Homo sapiens: one gene and its partners. The protein of the gene in region 2 interacts with the protein of the main gene of each other region in a pairwise test. Each region holds a gene or a part of one and is shown on either strand. Other genes may lie near its edges.

Region 1 (8,011 bases), on a different chromosome or scaffold from region 2:
GTCAGGAATTTGTGACCAGCCTGGCCAACACGGTGAAACCCCATCTCTACTAAAAATACAAAACTAGCCACGCATGGGGCGTATGCCTGTAGTCCCGGCTACTCAGGAAGCTGAGGCAGGAGAATCGCTTGAACCCGGGAGGCAGAGGTTGCAGTGAGCCGAGATAGCGCCACTGCACTCCAGCCTGGGCAACAGAGTGAGAGTCCGTCACACACACACACACACAATTCATTGAAGAACAAATGCATGCATTATCCACCTTTTTATCTGCCTCTTCCTTCCTAGGACTGCTGTTTACCTGGCTTTGTAACCCCTCCCCACTACAGGGCTCTAGTGGGTACACAGTCCACACCACCAGACCCTAGTCCCATACCCAGAGACCGTCCCTCACCTTACAACAGTCCCCATTCAACAAGGCCTCATCCTCCAAAAGGACTTCAGTCCTTTCCTTTCCTTTTCTGTAATAATCACTGCAGGACCCAGACACAGTGGGCTGCCTTGTGAAGCAGATTCTACGGATCCTGGCTGGCTGACAAGTGGTGAGTGGAGGTAAACGGGATGGGAGGTCTAAAAACTCCTTTATTTTTCCCCATTGCAACTGGAATAAATAGTCCGAACTCCCTATTGATTGTTATCCAGATGACAAAAACAAAACTATTTTTTTATGGAGACAGAGTCTCACTCTGTCGCCCAGGTTGGAATGCAGTGGCGCTTGAACCCAGGCACCTCCTGGATTCAAGTGTTTCTCCTGCCTCAGCCTCCCAAGTAGCTGGGACCATAGACATGCACCACCACGCCCAGCTAATTTTCGTATTTTTAGTAGAGATGGGGTTTTGCCATGTTGGCCAGGCTGGTCTCGAACTCTTGACCTCAGGTGATCTGCCCACCTTGGCCTCCCAAAGTGCAGGGATTACAGGTGTCAGCCACTGTGCCTGGCTGAACAAACAAAACTCTTTACTGAGATTCGTAGGCCCCATGTAATTGGGTTCCAGTCTCCCTTTATTATTATTATTATTTTTTGTTCAGACGGAATCTCGCTCTGTCGCCCAGGCTGGAGTGCAGTGGTGTGATCTCGGCTCACTGCAGCCTCCGCCTCCCAGGTTCCAGTGATTCTCCTGCCTCAGCCTCCCAAGTAGTTGGGATTATAGGTGTGCACCACTACACCCAGCTAATTTTTGTATTTTTGGTAGAGACTGGGTTTCACCATGTTGGCCAGGCTGGTATTGAACTCCTGACCTCGTGATTCACCTGCCTTGGCCTCCCAAAGTGCTGGGATTACAGGCGTGAGCCACCGCACCTGGCCCCAGCCTTCCTTTAAACTCAACTCTTTCCCTCCCTGGCTAGGAACTTTCTCTTCCCAGCCAGACTCCGCTTTTTACATCCTCTTTCCCACCTCAGGGCCTCTGAAGGTGCTGTCCTCTCCAAAGATGTTCTTCTCCACCTGGCTTCCTATAGCATGCAACCCCTATCCCTACAGCTTTTATTGCCATTTATTTTATTTTTTTCTTTTCTCAGATTGGTACAGGATGGTCTCACTATGTTGCCCAGGCTGGTCTCAAACTGCTGGACTCAAGTGATCCTCCCACTGGGAGGCAGCTGGGATTACCTACCCATGCTACCATGCCTGGCTTATACTTTTTTGCTTTTGTTTGAGACAGGGTCTAGCTCTGTCACCCAGGCTGGAGTGCAATGGCTTGATTCGGCTCACTGCAGCCTCAGCCTCCTAAGTAGCTGGGACTACAGGCTTGCATCATCACACCTAACTAATTTTTTAATTTTATTTTTAGTAGAGACGAGGTCTTACTACATTGTCCAGGTTGGTCTCGAACTCCTGAGCTCAAGCAATCCTCCTGCCTCAGCCTCCTAAAGTGCTGTGATTAGAGATGTGAGCCACTCCACCCAGTCCTTATTTTTTGCTATTTACATTCCCTCCCCTAAATCATGTACTCGAGAGCAGGGACTATGTCAGCACCCGGTTCCCTATCCAGTTATTGTAAGGATTCAATAAAAATTTGCTGAATTCATTAAAAAGAAAATAGGTCTTCCATCTCCACCCACTCCTCTACTAACCCTTTTCCCAAAAGTTCTCGATGGTTCCCACACCAAGTTACCCCAGTTCAGTTCTTCAGTCTCCTGCAGACATTCCTGAGTCCCATTCCCAGCCACTCACTCTCCATCATCTGCCCTGGAAACTTCCCACCCACAGGCCGGGCTCGGTGGCTCGCGCCTGTAATCCCAGCACTTAGGGAGGCCGAGACGGAATGAGTGCTTGAACCCAGGAGTTTAAGCAACTATAGCGAGACCCCTGTCTCTACAAAATATACAAAAAAATCAGCCGGGCGTGGTTGCACGTGCGCCTGTGGTCCCAGCTACTCGGGAGGCTGAGGCAGGAGAATCAACTGAGCCGGGGAGGTGGATGCTGCAGTGAGCCATGATCACGCCACTGCACTCCAGCCTGGGCGACAGAGCAAGACCGTGTCAAACAACAACAAAAAAACTTCCAGCCGCAGGAGTCCCATTAACGTACCCATTTAGTCATTCACTCGTCAAAAGTCCCGTACGTGCCCATTTCTCAGCCCTACTCCCTAAACCCCTAAACCCAACCTTCTCGCCCCAAGATGAGCTGCTGAAAATCCTTCACGCCACTGCTCGGCCCCATAAGGCCTATCCAGCCCGTTCCGTTTGAACCCCATACATCCCTTCGTCCTCGGGACCCCCCTCCAGCCCTCCTCAAGCGCCCCTCGTCAGTCTGGCCTCCACGCCCCGTCCCCTCAGCCCGCCAACCTCACTGCCACGACCCTGCGTGGCCCCTGCCGAGCCCGCGGGCAGCACCTGGCCTGTGCCTCGTCCAGGCTCTGGTCGGTGATGGCCATGATCTGCTGCAGGACGTCGCTCGTGTCGAGGCGCCGCGGGGCGGGGGGCGATGGCGCGGGGCGCGGCGGGGCGGCCATGAGCGGCAGGGCCGGGCGGGCGCTGTGAGGGTGCCGTCGAGCCTGGAGCACTACCACTGGCGCCGCAGCCAACCGCCGCTGCCTGAGCGCCGCGCCCGCTCTCGCTCGCGCCTAAGCCACGCCCACCGCCGCTATCGCCAGCCAACCCGTGTATTGCACCGCCTACAGACACGCCCCTTCATCTCCGTCAGCCAACCGGCGCCACGCACCGCCCCCGGGACTCGCCCCGAACTTCCCCCTCTCCGGGCTTGGACTGGGTTTGGGGTTGCCGAGGCAACGGCACTTCTCATAAGCGCCCTCCTTCCCCTTGAGAGAGGGCAGCGCTGGCTCCGCTCCAGCCAGAGGCCCCCATCCCTCACATCTCGCGCGGTGCACGCCTCCTTCAGCCCCACTCGCATCTCCTCAGAGTTCCTGCTCCTCCTCAGGGCCCCCTTCTCCTCAAAGCCCTCGGTCCTCAGAGACCCTCACTCCCCAGAGCACCCCAACTCTTCCTCCAAGCCACCCCCTCCTCCTCAGAACCCCACACCTCTTATAGCTTGATCGACAGCCCCCATTCATTTCCAGAAGCCCCAAGCCCCAGACCCCTGCTCAGTCCCCCTAATGCTCCCTGCATCCTCAGCCCCATCAGGTGGGCCACTGGGGCCCCTGGCTCTTCCTCTAGAGCTTTCCACGCCCCGTTCACCTGGCTAAGGCGGGGCGCAGGCGTGCGTGGTTGATGGCAACGAGGAGGTCAGAACGCAGCGCTTTTCTCCACTGCAGAAATCAATTCCAGTCACCTTTCAAGGTCCAGCTGAAGAGTGACCTCGCTTGTTTATTCATCTTCGCAGATTACAGTTCTGGGCATAGAAAATGCTACCACGTGGTTACCGAATGAAGGAAGGATGTTTACTGAGAGACTCCCCTGCAGTGTACCCCAAATCAGAGCGAATCCTCACATCTTTGTTTCTAGTCCTTAGGACACAGCATCGAAGGCTCCTAGTGCACAAGAAAAGGAACTGGGCGGTGGCTCATGCCTGTAATCCTAGCACTTTGGGCGGCAGAGGCGGGAGGATCACTTGAGCACGGGAGTTTGAGACCAGCTTGGGCAACATAGTGAGACCCCGTGGTGGTGCACGCCTGTGGTCCCAGCTATTTGGGACTTGAGAGGCTGAAGTGGGAGGATCACTTGGGCCTGGGAATTTGAGGCTGCAGTGAGCCATGATTGCACCACTGCACTGCAGCCTGGTTGACGGAGACCAGGTCTCAAAAAAAAAAAAAAAAAAAAAAAGTAATGGCCTGGACATGAATCTCTTCTCCAAAGTCACAGAACCTCCTGGAGCCTATTTGCTATGAGGACAGTCTCCAGATGTGGGCTCAGTAAAAGGTCCTCAGCCTGCTGGCTGGGAGCCCTTCCAGGGTGGGGCCCACGTTCTCTCCATTGCTGCTGGGGAGGAAATTCAAACACCATCTGGTATGGCTGGATTGGAGAGCGTCGGGAGACTCCAAAGGGGACGGCAGGGAGTGAAAAATGAAAGACATTGACCGAGTGTCTGGACAATAGGGAAAGCTCTCTGATGAAGGAAACCGACACTTGGCTCCAATGACAGAAAGTAATAGATTGCATGGGAGCCACGGAGACCAGTGCCTGTTCAAAAGGTCACCCACAAGCACAGCACTGCCCAGGAGGCCTGAACAGTAGTGGCCTTCAGGCTGGGTGCAGTGGCTGACACCTATGATCCCAACACTTTGGGAGTCTGAGGTGGGAGATTACTTGAGCCCAGGAGTTCAAGACCAGTCTGGGGAACATAGTGAGACCCCATCTCTACAAAAATAAAAATTAAAAAAATAGCTAAATTAGCTGGTCATGGTCCCAGCTACTTGGGAGGCTGAGGCGGGAGGATAAGTTGGGCTCAGGAGGTCGAGGCTACAGTGAGCTGTGTTTGTGCCACTGCACTCCAGCCTGGGTGAGAGAGCAAAACCTGCCCCCAACCCCAACAAAGTAGTATCCTTCAGAGAACTTGGAGGGGTGGGCACTGAAAGCTTCAGGGACCAGCAGAGACAAAAATTTGAAGCCACTTGGTGGAGACGGGAGATCGACAAGAGGAAATGGTCTCGAAGGAGACCCACGGGGTGCAGGTTAAAACCTGGAGGAGCTGATGTGAACAGCCAGCTCAGAGCGCCTGAGACAGAGTTGCCTTTTTTTTTTTTTTTTTTTTTTAGACAGAAATCTTACTCTGTTGCCCAGGCTGGAGTGTAGTGGCGTGACCTTGGCTCACTGCAACCTCCACCTCCTGGGTTCAAGCACTTCTCCTGCCTTAGCCTCCTCCTGAGTAGCTTACAGGCACCCACCACCACGCCCGGCTAATTTTTGCATTTTTAGTAGAAATGAGGTTTCACCATGTTGGCCAGGCTAGTTTCAAACTTCTGACCTCAGGTGATCTGCCTGCCTCGGCCGCCCAAAGTGCTGGGATTACAGGTATGAGCCACCTCACCCGTCCCACTGTTGCCATTTGGAGGTCATCAGGGGTCTCTACTGCATAGAAATTAGTTGGCAGCCTTGGCACTCAAAGTGCTCGGCCAGGGCCATTTAATATAGAAGGACCTGGGAGTTTTGGGTTCTTTGACAATGCATATTTCAGTGGTTTAAGAATTTGGCACAGGTGGCTGGGCATGGCGGCTCACATCTCTGAGTGACCTGGGTTCAAATTCTAGCTGTTATTCAGCATGGGATTCAAAAGTAGGGACATAACCCCACCTCCTCACTGGTGAGGTGGGAGCAGAGAATGACATCCTGGCACACACTGTGCCTTGGAGGGGGCCTCCCTGAGCATCTCAGAGGGGGCTCATGATGGATCTGGCACTCATGGGTTGGGTGCTGTGGGGTGAGGTAGGGAAAGCCCAGCTGAGCTTGGGACCAACCCTGGGCTTCGTGGGAATCTGAAGTCCCTTTCCTAGGGGCCTCTCTGGTCCCTCGGGGCCTGTATGTGCCATCTCCAAGCTGTGTTTACCATGGGCCAGATCACAACCTGTCTGAATCAGTGTTCTCACATAAAAATCAGAAAGACTGATCCCAGCACTTTGGGAGGCCAAAGCAGGCGGATCATGAGGTCAGGAGTTCAAGACCAGCCTGGCCAATATGGTGAAATCCCATCTCTATTAAAATACAAAAAATTAGCCAGACATGGTGGTGCATGCCTGTAGTCCCAGCTACTTGGGAGGCTGAGGCAGAAGAATCGCTTGAACCTGGAGGGGGCGGAGGTTGCAGTGAGCTGAGATCATGTGAGACTCTGTCTCAAAAAAAAAAAAAAAAAAAAAAGGCCAGGCATGGCGGCTCACGCCTATAGTCCCAGCACTTTGAGAGGCTGAGGCGGGCGGCTCACCTGAGGTCAGGAGTTCGAGACCAGCCTGGCCAACATGGTGAAACCCCATCTCTACTAAAAATAAAAAATTTAGCTGGGTGTGGTGGCATATCCCTGTAATCCCAGCTACCCGGGAGGCTGATGCAGGAGAATCACTTGAACCTGGGAGGCAGAGGTTGCAGTGAGCTGAGATCACGTCATTGCAGTCCAGCCTGGGAAACAGAGCAAGACTCCGTCTCAAAAAAAAAAAAAAAAAAAAGCCCAGCACAGTGGCTCATGCCTGTAATCCCAGCACTTTGAGAGGCCGAGGCGGGTGGATCACAAGGTCGGGAGTTCAAGATAAGCCTGGCCAAGATGGTGAAACCCCATCTCTAACAAAAATACAAAAATTAGCCGGGCACGGTGGCAGGTGCCTGTAATCGCAACTACTTGGGAGGCTGAGGCAGGAGAATCGCTTGAAACCCGGGGGCGGAGGTTGCAGCGAGCCGAGATTGCACCACTACACTCCAGCCTGGAGGACAGAGTGACACTCCATCACAAAAAAATAAAAAATTTAAAAAAAAAAGCACCTAAAGTGTTTACCAGTATGCCAGGCACATCAGAAGAGCTTGAGAAATGGTCATGCTCAAATCCTGCATCCCACTACCTGAACCCCACAACCTGTGGCTGGAAGTATGAATACAGGTGGTGGGGAATGGGATAGAAACGGCTGGGCACGTGACCTTGAACCATCAGGGCTCAAACAAAAGGGCAGTGGGGAGGGAGGGGGCTCATAGGGTCCAGACACTACTCTGAGCTGCAGAGAAAGACAGGGAGACAGGCAGTGAGATGGAGGCAGAGCAACAGATGGGGGAAACAAAGAACAGAAGCAGAGAGAAACAGATTCAAGACCCCAGTAAGAGAGAGGGGCCAGGCGTGGTGGCTCATGCCTATAATCCCAGCACTTTGGGAGGCCAAGGTGGGTAGGTGGATCGCTTGAGGTCAAGAGTTCGAGACCAGCCTGACTAACATGGTGGGACCCCATCTCTACTAAAAATATAAAGATTAGTCAGGCACGCGGTAGCTCACACCTGTAATCCCAGTACTTTGGGAAGCTGAGGTGGGTGGATCATTCAAGGTCAGGAGTTTGAGACGAGCCTGGCCAACATTGGTGAAACCTCATCTCTACTATAATACAAAAATTAGCCGAGTGTAGTGGCAGATGCCTATAACCCAGCTATTCGGGAAGCTGAGGCAGGAGAATCGCTTGAACCCAGGAGGCAGAAGTTGCAGTAACCTGAGATCAAGCCACTGCACTCCAGCCTGGGTGACAGAGCGAGACTCCCTCTCAAAGATAAACAAACAAATAAATAAATAATAAAAATAAAAATACAGAGATTAGCTGGACGTGGTGGCACGCGCCTGTAATCCCAGCTTCTCCTGAGGCACAAGAATCTGGAACCTGGGAGGTAGAAGTTGCAGCGAGCTGAGATTGTGCTACTGCTCTCCAGCCTGGGCTACAAAGTGAGACTCTGTCTAAAAAAAAAAAAAAAAAAAAAGAGAGAGATGGAATAACAGCCAGCCAGACTGAAGAAGAGCGAGCACAGGGCCAAGGAGATACCATGTTGAAAGATCCTTTCTGGACTTGGGCCAAGGTAGACAATTCCGGGACACAGGGACAGAAACACTGAATTGATAACAACAAATGTTTTGGAGACCTCAGAGTGTAAAGAAAGGTTTACT
Region 2 (7,021 bases):
TATTTATTTTGAGACAGAGTCTCGCTCTGTCGCCCGGGCTGGAGGCAGTGGTGCGATCTCAGCTCACTGTAACCTCTGCCTCCCAGGTTCAAGTGATTCCCCTGCCTCAGCCTCCTGAGTAACTGGGACTACAGGCATCCACCACCACGCCTGGCTAATTTTTGTATTTATAGTAGAGACGGGATTTCACCGTGTTGGCCAGTATGGTCTCGATTTCCTGACCTTGTGATCCACCTGCCTTGGCCTCCCAAAGTGCTGGGATTACAGGCACCTGCCACCTTGCCTGGCTAGTTTTTGTATTTTTAATAGAGATGGGGTTTTACCATGTTGGCCAGGCTGATCTGGAACTCCTGACCTCAGGTGATCTGCCCACCTCAGCTTCCCAAAGTGCTGGGATTACAGGCGCCTGCCACCTTGCCTGGTTAGTTTTTGTATTTTTAATAGAGATGGGGTTTCACAGTGTTGGCCAGGCTGATCTGGAACTCCTGACCTCCAGTGATCTGCCCGCCTCGGCCTCGCAGATGTCCTTGCCTTTTGTTTCTTCTCTATACCTTGAAAGTCTGTGCTGTGTTAAGGGCGTCATGCTCAGGCTTACTGATTCTGAAGGGGTTATCAGTGGATGATTCCGGATGTTGTGGAATATCAAACAGATCGAAAAGTTTCTTTAATAATAGTGATGGCACCTTGTGTTTAGAGTTCGCAGTGGCATTTACCAGATGCTCTCTGGCCACCTTCATGTGAACCTCCCAGCTGACTCGGGCCTGCTTTATCTGCCATCAGATTGTAATGGCAGCTTTGTGGAGGCCGCCCTGTAGATTATGCGATTAATGACCACATTCATGTGAGCAATAGTGCTGGCTTAGTTTTTTTCCAGTTAGGTTGTTTGGAATGGTAGCTGCATACCTGAGGGCAGTGCAGCAATGCCTTAGTTACGAAGGCAGTTTGCATTCCACAGGTAGAGTCTTTCCTTATGGCCAGGGCACTGATCCCTCACATACCAGAAAGTATCATTCGTCCCTGCCCCAGACAGACTCCAGATGCGTCCCAGTGGTGGTTCTTGGGATAGTTTTGTAGGAATTTCTGCAGAATTTTAGTGTTCAGATGAGTATGCTCTGTCTGTGGACTGGAGACAGGCTTCAAAGAATTCTCAAATTATTCTGCACAATACATCATTTTTTGGTATCTCTGCAGTTCCAAAGGTAACTACTTGAGGGACAGTGGCCACCAAAGAGCACAAGTTTTGACATTTTGATGAAAAGCACACATAAAACAAATAAAAACCACCTTTCCTTAAGTTACCTATTGAATTGTGCTTATTCCCATAAATGCATGTTCATCTGTTTGCTTAATAAAACTTAAAGCACCATAGAGTCTTTCTTGTTTCCTAGAATAAGGTCTTTTTTCTTTTCCTTTCTTGTCTTTTTTTGTTGTTGTTGTTGTTGAGACGGAGTCTCGCTTTGTTGCCCAGGCTGGAAGTGCCCTGTGGTGTGATCTTGGCTCACTGCAGGCTGCGCCTCCCGAGTTCATGCCATTCTCCTGCCTCAGCCTCCCAAGTAGCTGGGACTACAGGCGCCCGCCGCCACACTTGGCTAATGTTTTGTATTTTTAGTAGAGACGGGGTTTCACTATGTTAGCCAGGATGGTCTTGATCTCCTGACCTTCGTGATCTGCCCGCCTCTGCCTCCCAAAGTGCTGGGATTACAGGCGTGAGCCACCGTGCCTGGCCGGTCTTTTTTATTTTCAATTAAAAAAAAATATATATATATATGTATTTTTAAACAGAGATGGGATTCCGCCATGTTTGCCAGGCTGGTCTCAAACCCCTGGCCTCAAGTGATCCTCCCATCTCGGGTTCCCAAAGTGCTAGGATTACAGGTGTGAGCTACCACACCTGGCCTATTTTCAATCCTAAAAAAATCATTTGCGTGTTTCTTGATTTTAGGCACTGAACTAGACGGAGATGAGAATATAGAAATAATAAAATGGGGCTGGGCGCTGTGGCTCACACCTGTAATCCCAGCACTATGGGAAGTAAAGGAGCAGATCACTTCAGGTCAGGAGTTCGAGACCAGCCTGGCCAACATGGTGAAACCCCATCTCTGCTGAAAATACAAAAATTAGTCGGGTATGGTGGCGTGCGCCTATAATCTCAGCTACTCGGGAGGCTGAGGCAGGAGAATCACTAGAACCCGGGAGGCAGAGGCTGCAGTGAGCCGAGATTGTGCCACTGCACTCCAGCCTTGGGTGACAGAGCAAGACTCTGTCTCAAAAAAAAAAAAAAAAAAAAATAGAAAAAATAAAATGATGTCTCAACTATCAAAGACCTCGCAAGAAGCCTTAAAAATGATAAATAAGGCTAGAGATTTTGCTGTACCTTTGGAAAGTGCATGTGTGGTGGTTTATAGTACATATTCTGTGGCCAGATAAAATTTATATGATTATTTTTCCTCCCAAGAATATGAGATGACAGAGGGGGAGGAGCGTGGATGGAGACTAGGAGCCTTGGGCTCTTGTCCAGCCTTTCCCTGACCAACCCTGAGGTCTGGGACAATCAGCACAGAACTCCAGGTCTCAGTTTTCATATTTGTAAAATGAAGGACTTAGAGGACCTTCACCTTTTGCAAATCTGATAGCAACTGTGACCCCTTCCCACGAAGGGGGACAGCTTCATAGGCGTGGACCCAGATTAAGAACTGGATTATTCCATCTCTAAGCTCCCTCTCACCTGTGATATTCTGTAATCCTATTTTCCTGGTCATCTTTGAGCTAATAATAATGATGACTTGTATTTATAGAAGATGCACATTCCAAAGCACTTTCACCTCTCATTCTTTTGTCCTCAAAACATTTCTGAGTGGTACAGGTGGCAATAGATATTCCTTCCTGTGATGAAGAAAGTGGGCCAGGCTTGGTCAGCACGTTGATGGAGCAAACAGCCAGAGGCCGTCCTGGGACCAGAACTGGGGCTCCTGGTTGCCATCCTGGGGCTTTTCCATTAGGTTTTGCTTCCTTGGTGGTTGTCATTATGAGTTATGTTTGGCAGTTCAAATATCCCAGAATGTGTCACTCGTAGAGGAAACTATTTGTTCATCTGCCGGAAAGGACTGTTTTTCTCTCTGAATTTGGATCACTAAACACCTTTTCTGTATGTGAAAAGGCTACTTATTTGTTTTTGTTATTTTTTCTTGCCACATTTTTCATAGGGACAGTTTGTAGGGCTTGAGTGTTTTGAGCAGACTTATTTAATGCTTATTGATGAAAGAGTACATTAAAATGACTACTTCTCAGTTGCTTAGCACTTGAGAAAGTTGTGAAATAAATGTTAAGTAAAAATTCCAAATGTCTCACTTGTCCTATCCAAGTATGTCCTCACAGATGAGATGCTTTCTGCAGTCTAGGAGGCCCCTCCCTGGGCCCAGAGCCGCTGGGTGGGTTTGAAAGTTGGGTGTGGATTGTGCCAGTGGCCAGGACTGTCCAACAGTGGCTGCTTGTGGCCTTCTGGCTAGATTCCTAACATTTTATGGACTAATTTTTTTGGTTTATTGAAAGAGTACACATTCTGAGCTATATAAAGAGCTCATATATGTAAAAGAACACTGAACTTAGGCCGGGCGTGGTGGCTAACGCCTGTAATTCCAGCACTTTGGGAAGCTGAGGTGGGCAGATCACAAGGTCAGGAGTTTGAGACCAGCCTGGCCAATATGGTGAAACCCCATCTCTACTAAAAATATAAAAACTAGCTGGTCATGGTGGTGCGTGCCTGTAATCCCAGCTACTGGGGAGGCTGAGGCAGGCGAATGGCTTGAACCCAGGAGGCGGAGGTTGCAGTGAGCCGAGATTGTGCCACTGCACTCCAGCCTGGGCGACAGAGTGAGACTCTGTCTCAAAAAAAAAAGAAGACCACTGAATTTTAGAGCCTCACAGATGTTAGGTGGCTTATTTCTGATGAAAATAATCATAATAAAGATGTTTTTTATTTTTATTTTTTAAAAGAATACTTCTGATGTATTTCTGAAAGCTGTTTTGAATACTCAGACATGGAAGCTGATAGTACTGCACACAGCAGGCATCACTCAATGTGGAGTGTGTGTGGAGAATCCACCTGTCTTCCTGTTATGTCATGTGTGATGTGACTATTGATAGAGTTGCAGCCAGCTGGGGCACTCCATTAAGCTGCCCGTGGAAGTACCTGCTTTTTATTTTCATTTCACTCCCTGGACTGAGAGTGTTTGGAGGATATCTCAGTGGCTCATGTGGAGGGAGCATCTGTGGGTGGAAGGCAACAGGCAGGGTGAGTCAGAGGTAGTGGTCCTGGCCACTGCATGCCTGGTGCCCCTGGCTCTGCCTGCAGCTCTGGAATCCTGAGATAAAGATGATGGCTGCTCTGTAAAGGCAGCTCAGTATAGGCAGCAGGCCTGGAAACTTCTCTTTTCATTGTGGCGGTACCAGATAGTAGTGTGTACAAAGTACTGCACGACAGAGGAGGGCGGGTCTGACTGTCCTCAGGACACTACAGAGAGCTGACCTTCAGGGAAGTGACTTGGGAGGGATTGTGCCAGAGCCACAGGTGCTCTCCAGGTGGGGCTGACGTGAAGGACCATTCTGGGCAGAGCTACAGAGCTCTGAAGAACAAGGAGTGGCTGGGAGAGAGGGGTCACGCCTGTAATCCCAACACTTTGGGAAGCTGAGGTGGGCGGATCACTTGAGGCCAGGAGTTTGAGACCAGCCTGGCCAACATAGCAAAACCCTGTCTCTACTAAAAGTACAAAAATTAGCTGGGCGTGGTGGTTTGTGACTGTGAACCCAGGTACTCGGGAGGCTGAGGCAGGAGAATCGCTTGAACCTGGGGGCAGAGATTGCAGTGAGCCAGGATAGTGCTACTTCATTCCAGCCTGGGTGACAGAGCGAGACTGTCTCAAAAAAAAAAAAAAAAAGAACAAGAGGTGTGTGTGAGAGGGGCTGCTAGGGGCAGGGAAGGCTCCAGGTTATGACCTGCCTTATATTCTCCTGGAGGACAGTTCACTGGGGAGCAGTTTCTGGGTATTTAAAATACCGGGATGAAGATCTTCAGAGAAGCAAGATGTCAGTTGAGAAGTCAGGGATGCAGATGGGGGAGGGGTGATTCAGGTGACTCAATTTCACAAAGGTCACCTCTGTCTCTGGGAGTCTCAAGGATTGCCATCTGTGTTCCTAGGAAGCAGTGGCTCCACTCTAATGAGAAGGGCTTTTCGAGTGGGAATGGCCTCAGCCTTGACTCATTCTCTTAACCTGCATTTACGTGTTTGGTTGAGAATGCAGTAGCTGTGTGGGTTCTGCTTCTCTTTCTTTTTTCTTTTTTGAGACGGAATTTTGCTCTTGTCGCCCAGGCTGGAGTACAATGGTGCGATTTCGGCTCACTGCACCCTCCACCTCCCAGGTTCCAGTGAGTCTCCTGCCTCAGCCTCCCAAGTAGCTGGGATTATAGGCATGCGCCATCATGCCGGGCTAATTTTTGTATTTTTGGTAGAGATGGGGTTTTACCATGTTGGCCAGGCTGGTCTCAAACTCCTGACCTCAAACGGCCCGCCTGCCTCTGCCTCCCAAAGTGCTGGGATTTCAGGCATGAGCCACCGTGCCTGGCTGTTTCTCTTTCCATATGGTTTATGCTTACAGATCCTTGAGGTTAATATGTCACTTTCACTGTTAGTTCCTACAGAAGAAAGGTAATTTTGCAATAAGGTTTTGGAGGTTAGGAACATGGTTTTGGAGTCATACAGCCCTTGGGTGTGGGTTCGAGCTCCATCACTAGGTGACTGTGCGGCTTTTGGCCAAATGTTTCAATGTCTCCAAAACTTGAGTGTCTTAGTCAGTTGGGGCTGCTATAACAAAGATGCGGTGGCTTGTAAACAACAGAAATTTCCTTCTTACAGTTCTGTAGGCTGCAAGTCTGAGATCAGGGTACCAGCATGGTTGGGTTCTGAGGAGGGTCCTTTTTCATGTTGCGGATTGCTGACTTCTTATAGCTTCACATGACAGAAAGAAGGCGAGAGAGCTCTCAGGTACTTTTTATAAAGGCATGAGTGGCTGAGTGCAGTGGCTTATGCCTGTAATCTCAACACTTTTGGAGGCTGAGGCAGGAGGATCACTTGATGCCAGGAGTTCATGGCCAGCCTGGGTAACATAGTGAGACCCTATCTCAACAAAAACTAAAAAAAAAAAATTGTAAGGACACTAGTCCCATTCATGAGGGCCCTGCCTAATTAGCTTCCAAAGGCCCTACTTCCTAATGCCATCAAACTGAGGGGTAGAATTTCAACATATGAATTTTGAGGGGATCCATACATGCAGTCCTTTGCACCAGGATACTGAGAGCCCTTCCTCATAGGATTTTGGCGGGGCAGCATGAGGTGATGGACCCCAGGAGCCCAGCATGTGTGCCTGGTCACAGTGCTCATTCAGTCACTCTCCTATCAGTCTACGTAAGTGAATTTGCCAGCAAACTATACCTTTAAAGTGCCCAAAGTGATTTTATCCAGTTCTATTTAAAAATCCTTCCAGAACTTTTTGGACCTTTCCTTGGTGACTCGGGGTCACGGGTGTAGTCGCAGGTCATTGGTGTGGGTGAGGCCTCCTGCCCTGGCCCTGCATGGACTCCCCTCATATCCTGGCACTTACAGGGCCTGTCTTTCTCCCCACCACCTTTTGTAAGCTGCTGTTGGCACCTGGCCCTTTTGTTGGGGTAAGGGCCTGATGATGGTCATATCCTCCCTGGGTTTTGAGGGCAGCCTTGCCATGCAGAGAGGCCTTGCTCTCTTCTGGGTTGGTAATTCTCTGCCTGAGTTTAATGTGATGGATTCTAGAAAGCCTGACCCTGGGGTGAAGGGATGTTGCTTGACTACACGTAGTGACTCAGGATTGGAAGGGAGTACTGGTAATGATAGCTTATCCCTAGGTGATGGGAAATAGGACTTAGAAAGCAAATGATAAAGGTGTGAGCACTGCTCACCTGTGTGAAATTGTATTAAGATAACACGCAGCAGTG
Region 3 (6,957 bases), about 24 Mb from region 2:
TAAAAGATAAACCGGGAAGAGGGTGAAGATGAGAAGCGAGCGCCTGGGTGTGAGCGTGAAGGATGCCTATGTTAATAGCCTGCTGTGGGGGGTCAGCCTGCCAAGGAGCAGCTAGAGCTCAAGAAGCAAATTCAGGAGAGCAACACAGCCACTGAGCCCTGGAAGGTGGCGCTCCACAAGCTCTGATCGGGGCTCCCAAAACAATGACAGATGGCCATTCAACCAAGGAACTCAAGGGGCCTGGAGCCTGTGAGATGCGAGTGTCCCCAGCTGCAAGGGAGCTGACTGGGACACGGGCATGTCCACAGGTAGTCTGTTCAGTCCCCAAGGGCAAGACCAGGGTTCAGGGAGAAGGGCTTTGTGTGCATGCTAGGGGTGGAGGCGGGGATGCTAGGGACACCCAGCAGTGTCAGGGCAGTTCTGACTGGGGACACCATGCTTGCTTGGTGTTATCCAAGCTGGCCAGCCTTGGGGTGTCTGGGGAGCTGCAGCCCTGGCTTCTGCAGTCCTGCTTTTAGAGATGGACTTCATCTCTTGCAGGTAGAATGGCCCCATTCCCTGCAGGGCCTGTAAGGAGACAGAACGAGGTGCTCAAGCCAGCTGGGGGTGGGGATGTGAGATGCTTTGGACCCACTGTAGGGCCTACTTGGGGAATCTAAGGCTTCTTTCCACTGTGCCTTTTGCCATGGGCCAGGATAAAGAAGGGGAGGGCAGGCATCTTCCCAGGCAGCAGGGGCGGGGTCTCCCCAGTCCAACCTCCTCTTGCCCTACCCTAGGATGGCACAGATTGCTGTGAGGGAGTCCGAGCCCACAGCATGAAAACCCCAGGAGGAAGCAGGGGACCCTCACCCATGGGCAGGTTCACAGTAGCCTAGAGGCCAGGGCTGGACCCCAGGGGTCCAAGGCCACCATCCGTGGAGCAGTCCCCTCTGCTGGGGAGCACCCTGGTGCAGAGACTGAGGATCGCTGAGCTGTGCTCCTCTCAAAGACAGCTGTACCCTAAATACCCCCTCGCTGGGAAGGAAGAAGAAGGGACAGCTCCTTGTTGGGTGTGGGAGTGGAGCCAAGGTGGACTTGAGACTCTGGGCGGCTTCTGTGGTATTTGAAGTTGCTAGTTTCTCAGTATCAGCGCGAGGCTCGAAGGTGAAGGGACTGTGGAGGGGCTCCTGGAATCGCTCCTGCGACCTTCTTATTCTACAGGTCCAGATACCAAGACCCAGCCCAGGGCCTGGGAAGCCTGCAACGCCAGGACTGCACAGACACGAACCCCATCCCCTCTCCCGCTGGGGGAGGACGAGCCAGGTCAAGTTAGGTCAATGTCCACATTGAGAAGAGGGTGGCCAGCATGTCCCAGGGTGCGGAGAGACGCTCCACTGCGTAGGATTCTGGGTCCCGTGTTGATACGGGGTGGTTCCCCTCCTGCGGTGGAGTTAGTGTCTCTCGGGGGGTAGGGAGCTGAGGAAACTGCTCTATGCCCCAGCCCACCCCCAAGGGACTCGCCACTCCCACTGCCGTGGAACACCAAGCACCGGGGGCCCGTCCCCAGCGCCACGGCAGCACGAGCTGCAGGAGGCAAGGGCTGTGGAGACGGGTGGAGGCGGCCGGTGTACTCTCCCAGCTCCTTTTCGGGTAGACCTGTCTTCTCTCAGCGCCAACTCCAAAGATCCCAAAAAGGGTGGCCGAGCCCAGGGGCAGCTCCTAGAGTCATCAGCAGCTCCCCTTCGGGGACTTCTTGACGCCGGGCAGGAGCCTCGCGGAAGCCGACGCGCGCTTCTGGTGTCGCCATTTGGCCCGGCGGTTCTTGAACCAGACCTGGGGATGGGGGGAATGCTCAGCCCTAGCCCCAGGTCCTGCGTCCCACCGGCTCCCGAGGGTCCCACAGGGACCGAGAGGGGAGCTTCGCAACAGGGATGTGGGCGGACGGCGCTGTAGAGCCGACACCCGGGCCGCGGCTGCGCGCCACCTGCCCTTATTCGCTGCGGACAGACTCGGTGGGTCTGGACGCGAGATGGGAACCCCCTTAGTACCCGCCCCAGCCTCCAGCTGGCGGCGACCAGGACGCCCCTTCTTGGGTTGCGGGCTCTTCTGAATTTCCCAAATTCTGGACGTGAACGCGGGCCTCTTTCGTCACCAGAGGAAAGTGTAAAACAAAAGAAAAGAAAAGTAGCCCTCCGGTTCCTTTCCCGCGGCACCTCCCTGCTCTCACCCGCTCCTCATACCCCCGGACGCCCAGCGCCGTCCAGGGACCTCCTCCCTCCGGCGCGCCAGGGCGGGGCTTGGGCCGAGGCCGTCTTTGCAAAGGGCGCCCGCCCGCCAGGACCCCAGTCCAGTGTAGCCGCGGCCCGCGCGCTCCGGGGAAAGGCTGGGCGGGGCACTCACCTCCACGCGCTCCTCGCGAAGGCGGATGCGGCCGGCCAGGCGCTCGCGCGTACTCACGTCAGGATACTGGTTCTGCACGAAAAGCGCCTCGAGCGCCTGCAGCTGCTCTTCGCTGAAGATGGTGCGGTGGCGCCTCGTGCGCCGCTGCGAACCCGGGCCGACCGCGCCCGGGAGCGCCCCGGAACCTCCGGCTGGCGCACCCAGAGACAAGGGCACCGCCGGTCCCAGCCTCAGCGGCCACGCCAGACGAGCGCCTGCGGAGCGAGGGCGCGGTGAGGCGCGGGGCTGGGGCCAAGCTCGGCACCCACTGCGCCGCGCCCCGGGCTCCGCCGGGCCCCGCGCCCCGCTCCGCGCCCACTCACCCAGCCCGGCGGCCGCCTCTGGGGGCCCGCAGGGCGCCGCGCGGGGGCCGCAGCAGCAGCAGCAGGCGCAGGGCGCAGCCTCGGGCGCCCCGGGCTCCTCTGGCTTCGCGGGGCTCTGGCGACCGGCGGGCTGCGGTGGGCAGGCGGCCCGGGCCGGGAGGCTCCGCTCGGGCAGGCTGGAGAGGATGTGCTCGATGGAGAAGGGGCAGGGCCGCCCGGCACCCCGGCGGCTCGCCGCGCCCCCAGCCGCTGCCGCCATGCCCGGCCCGGCCGGGGCGCCGCCGCCGCGGGAATATATACGTCGGGGAGGGAGCGCGCAGTAATCCCCGGGCCGGGCGTCCAGTCCACGCGGGTTAATCCCGCAGCGCCGGCCGCGAACGCGCTAATCCTCGACTGCGGCGGCCCTGCCTCCGCGCGCGGGGGCCGGGGGCGCTGCAGAGAGGGCCCCCTGTGCCCCCCACCCCGCCCCGCGTCCTCCTGCCCCACCCGCGCCCGCCGCTCAAGCTGGCAGGGCGACCTGCGGGGAAGGGGCGGAGGGCCGCCTCGCCGCCGCCCGCGGGGCCTGGCAGCCGCTCGGAGGGCGCCCCGACCCTGGCAGCTCCCCAGAGCGCGGCGGTGCCTCCCGGCCCAGCCTCTGGTGGCTCCCCCTCGTTCGGCTGGGCCTAATTCCTCGTCCCCTCTGGGGCCCTACTGCGGCGGCTCAGCACGCCTGCAGAAGCTCGGCCTAGCCGCCCACCCGAAACTCCTGGACCGCAGCCTCCATGGGGCCCAGCACCACCGGCAACCGCACGATCCCGCCGCGCTCGGGTCCCGAACCTGCCCGCCACCTCGGAGCCAGGGTCTCATGGCCCTGGAGGGCGTGAGAGCGCGGCAGGAAGCCTGGGCTGCCGGGTGCCCCCAGTTCTCCGTCTCCTCACCTGTGTCAAGGAGACCTCCCCGCCCCTTCCGAGGCCCCTCCTCGGTGCTTCAGAGCCGCCTGTCCTCCAGCTTTCCCACTGGTCCCAGAATCCCCGCGAAAACATCCAACACTGCACCTCGCCCTTCCCCGCACTGTCACTGCCCCCCAGAAGCTGTGGGCTCCCCCTCCTCGCTCTCCGCCCAGGCCAGTCCTCTGGCCACACCGTCCTCGGTCCCTTCTGCCACAGCGCAGGTGACCCGCACTTGGCTACATTGTTTCACCCTCAGTGAAGCGGCTCCTGGCAGCGGGACCGTCACTTCAGCTTAAGACCCTTTCCTCTTGACCTTTGAAAATACAGTATGGGACTCATAGCACAGAGAAACAGACGGCCTGGCTCATACTCCGTTGTCAATTTCTGGCCGTGTGACCTCCATAGGCGTCTTCAGCCTCTGGGCTTGGCTTTCCCAATCTGTAAAGTGTAGTGACTAGGTGTGAGACGGTTAGAACCTGGCCGCCTCCCCAGGGCAATGCGTATTCCTGCGCTCCTCCCGCCGCCAGCCCCTCTGCAAGACTCTGCCATCCCCACTCTGCTATCAGTGAAAGTGCTGTGGACATCACTGTGACCGAACCTGCTGATTTAATTTCTGTCACAAGAGCTCCCACATAGGTTTCCCAGGGGTAGTCTGGAGGCTCAGTGATGAGCTGCCACCTCCATGAGTGGCTCTGTCAACCCCTCCTCCACCCACCTCTTGGTGGTAGAATGGCTGCCACAGCCCCACACTTTTCATCTCCTCCCATGGCCCTTTGGATGGCCATGGATCCCTCCTCCCTCAGCAGACCTCCCTCACAGAACTGCATCTGGACCATCCTCCAAAATCAGAGTGCTGCTATGATGGGGGAGGCAGGGTCATTGGTCAGGAGAGCCAGCCCAACATTTGCTGAGCCCTCTTCCTCCTAGCCCTGGCCATTCCTTCATCCTTTCCCATTCTCACCCTCAATACCTATTCCAGCCTTGGAGCTCCAGACACCATCTTTGTGACAGTGACTCACAAGTGCACCTCCAGCCTGGCCTCTCTCTCTGCTCCACGCTCTTGTTTCTGGAGCCTGCTCCACATCTCCATCTCCACTACCAATAAAGTTCTCCCAGTCACCATGCCAGAAAGGAACTCAAGGTCTTCTCAAAATCCCTTTCTTACCCTATGTTCTCCACTTTTACAAATGGGCCACTGCCCACCTGTCCATCTCTAGTGCTCATTCTCTTCTACCTATTTGCCTCTGCGTGTGCCCTGCCTCTTTACCAGTCCACCTTGGTAAATGGCCCACTGTGGCACTTTTTCAAAAAGTTTATTTTCTATTTTGCATTATTTTTTGAGACAGGGTCTTGCTCTGTCACCCAGGCTGGAGTGCAGTGGTGTGATCATGGCTCACTGCAGCCTTGGCATCCTGAGCTCAAGTGATCCTCCTGCCTCAGCCTCCCAAGTAGCTGGGACTACAGGTGCACCACCATGCTCAGCTAATGTTTCTGTTTTGGGGGGGTTTTGCCACGTTGCCTAGGCTGGTCTCAAACTGCCGAGCTCAAGCAATCCGCCTGCCTTAGCCTCCCAAAGTGTTGGGATTACAGGCATGAGCCACCGTGCCTGCCTGGCCTGCCCCCCTCCCTTTTTTTTTTTTTTTTTTTTTTTTGAGACGGAGTCTCGCTCTGTCGTCCAGGCTGGAGTGCAGTGGCATGATCTCAGCTCACTGCAAGCTCCACCTCCCGGGTTCACGCCATTCTCCTGCCTCAGCCTCCCGAGTAGCTGGGACTACAGGCGCCTGCCACCATGCCCAGCTATTTTTTTTTTTTGTATTTTTATTAGAGACGGGGTTTCACCATGTTAGCCAGGATGGTCTCGATCTCCTGACCTTGTGATCTGCCCGCCTCGGCCTCCCAAAGTGCTGGGATTACACGCCCGGCCTTTTTTGTTTGTTTTTTTACTTTTGAGACAGGGTCTCGCTCTTTCACCCAGGCTGGAGTGCAGTGGGTGACCATAGCTCACTGCAGCCTCTGAACACCTGGGCTTAAGAGGTTCTCCCACCTCGGCCTCCCAAGTAGTTGGGAGCACAGGCACACGCCACCATGCCTGGCTAATTTAAAAAAAATTATAGATAGGGTCTCACTATGTTGCCCAGGCTGGTCTAGAACTTCTGACCTCAAGCAATCCACCTGCCTCAGCCTCCCAAAGCTCTGAGGTTACAGGTGTGAGCCACCGTGCCTGGCCACTCTGGCGCCTCTGAAACATGCTGGCAGGTTCTCTGATGCTGCTCCCTTTGGGAGTTTAATTGGGTTTCTTCCTGAAACATGGGCTGGCCTTCACGACTTGCTTGTAATCCATAGAATGCAGCAGAACTGACATCGTGTGGTTTCTGAGGCCAAGTCACACACAGAGTCACACAGATCAGATCAGCAACCCAACTCCTTCTCTCTCTCTCACACATCTTGGGATGCTTGATCTTTACACCCAGCCACCATGCTGTGAGGGGCACAGGCAGCCTCGGGAGAGGATAGGCGTGTTCCTGCCAGCAGCACCAGCTGAAGGACCCATCCACCCCCTGCACGGGTCACCTACAAGTGAGTGAGGAAGCCTTCCAGATGGCTCTGGCCCCGGCCACCATTGGACTGCAACCACAGGAGACACCAAAACTGAGAATCCCCTCCCTGAGCCCAGTCAAGCCCCATGACTATGAAATATAATAAAATAGATGATGCTGGGTGTTTTTACTGCACCAAGTTTGATGTGGTTTGTTATATAACTATAGATAAGCAGAACGGGATCTGGTACTGGAAGTGGGGTGGGTGCTGCTGATACAAAACCTAAATCATGTGACATTGGCTTTGGGATGGGGCAGTGTCCAGGAGCTGGGAGGACCTTGCAGAGGCTGACAGTGGGGACTTAGAGGAAAGTGAAGAAATTGTTACTGGAAGATGGAGGAAAGAAGACCATTGTTATGCAGTGGCAGGAAGTTTAGCAACATTGTCACCTGTAGCCAAATAGGAAATAGAAGCTAGATAGTATTCCCAAGAATAAAATGATCTAAGGACATACCCAGAGAGAAAGTTCAAGGTGCTACTTGGCTTCTTCTAGCTACCAATAATAAAAAGAAAGAAGATATGATTCAAAAAGCAAGATTTAGGGCCGGGCATGGAGGCTTACTCCTGTTATCCCAATGCTTTGGGAAGCTGAGGTGGGAGAATCACTTGAGGCCAGGAGTTCAAGACCAGCCTGGGCAACATAGCAAGACCCTCATCTCTATAAAGAAAAGTTTTTTCTTTAAGATGGA

What was found. Proteins that work in one complex are often made in the same cells at the same time.
Region 1: the proteins of PACSIN2 (region 2) and PBX4 interact in binary tests that used the Homo sapiens proteins (3 or more experiments, as listed by UniProt).
Region 3: the proteins of PACSIN2 (region 2) and GSC2 interact in binary tests that used the Homo sapiens proteins (3 or more experiments, as listed by UniProt).

The regions. Positions count from the first base shown.
Region 1 is NC_000019.10:19,615,679-19,623,689, forward strand, and holds the start of PBX4 (pre-B-cell leukemia transcription factor 4), read right to left. Parts: upstream 3,010-8,011; 5' UTR 2,952-3,009; coding exon 2,833-2,951; intron 1-2,832.
Region 2 is NC_000022.11:43,005,133-43,012,153, reverse strand, and holds part of PACSIN2 (protein kinase C and casein kinase substrate in neurons protein 2), read left to right. Parts: intron 1-7,021.
Region 3 is NC_000022.11:19,147,284-19,154,240, forward strand, and holds the start of GSC2 (homeobox protein goosecoid-2), read right to left. Parts: upstream 3,010-6,957; 5' UTR 3,001-3,009; coding exon 2,742-3,000; intron 2,634-2,741; coding exon 2,380-2,633; intron 1,813-2,379; coding exon 1,708-1,812; 3' UTR 1-1,707. UniProt on the Homo sapiens protein: May have a role in development. May regulate its own transcription. May bind the bicoid consensus sequence TAATCC.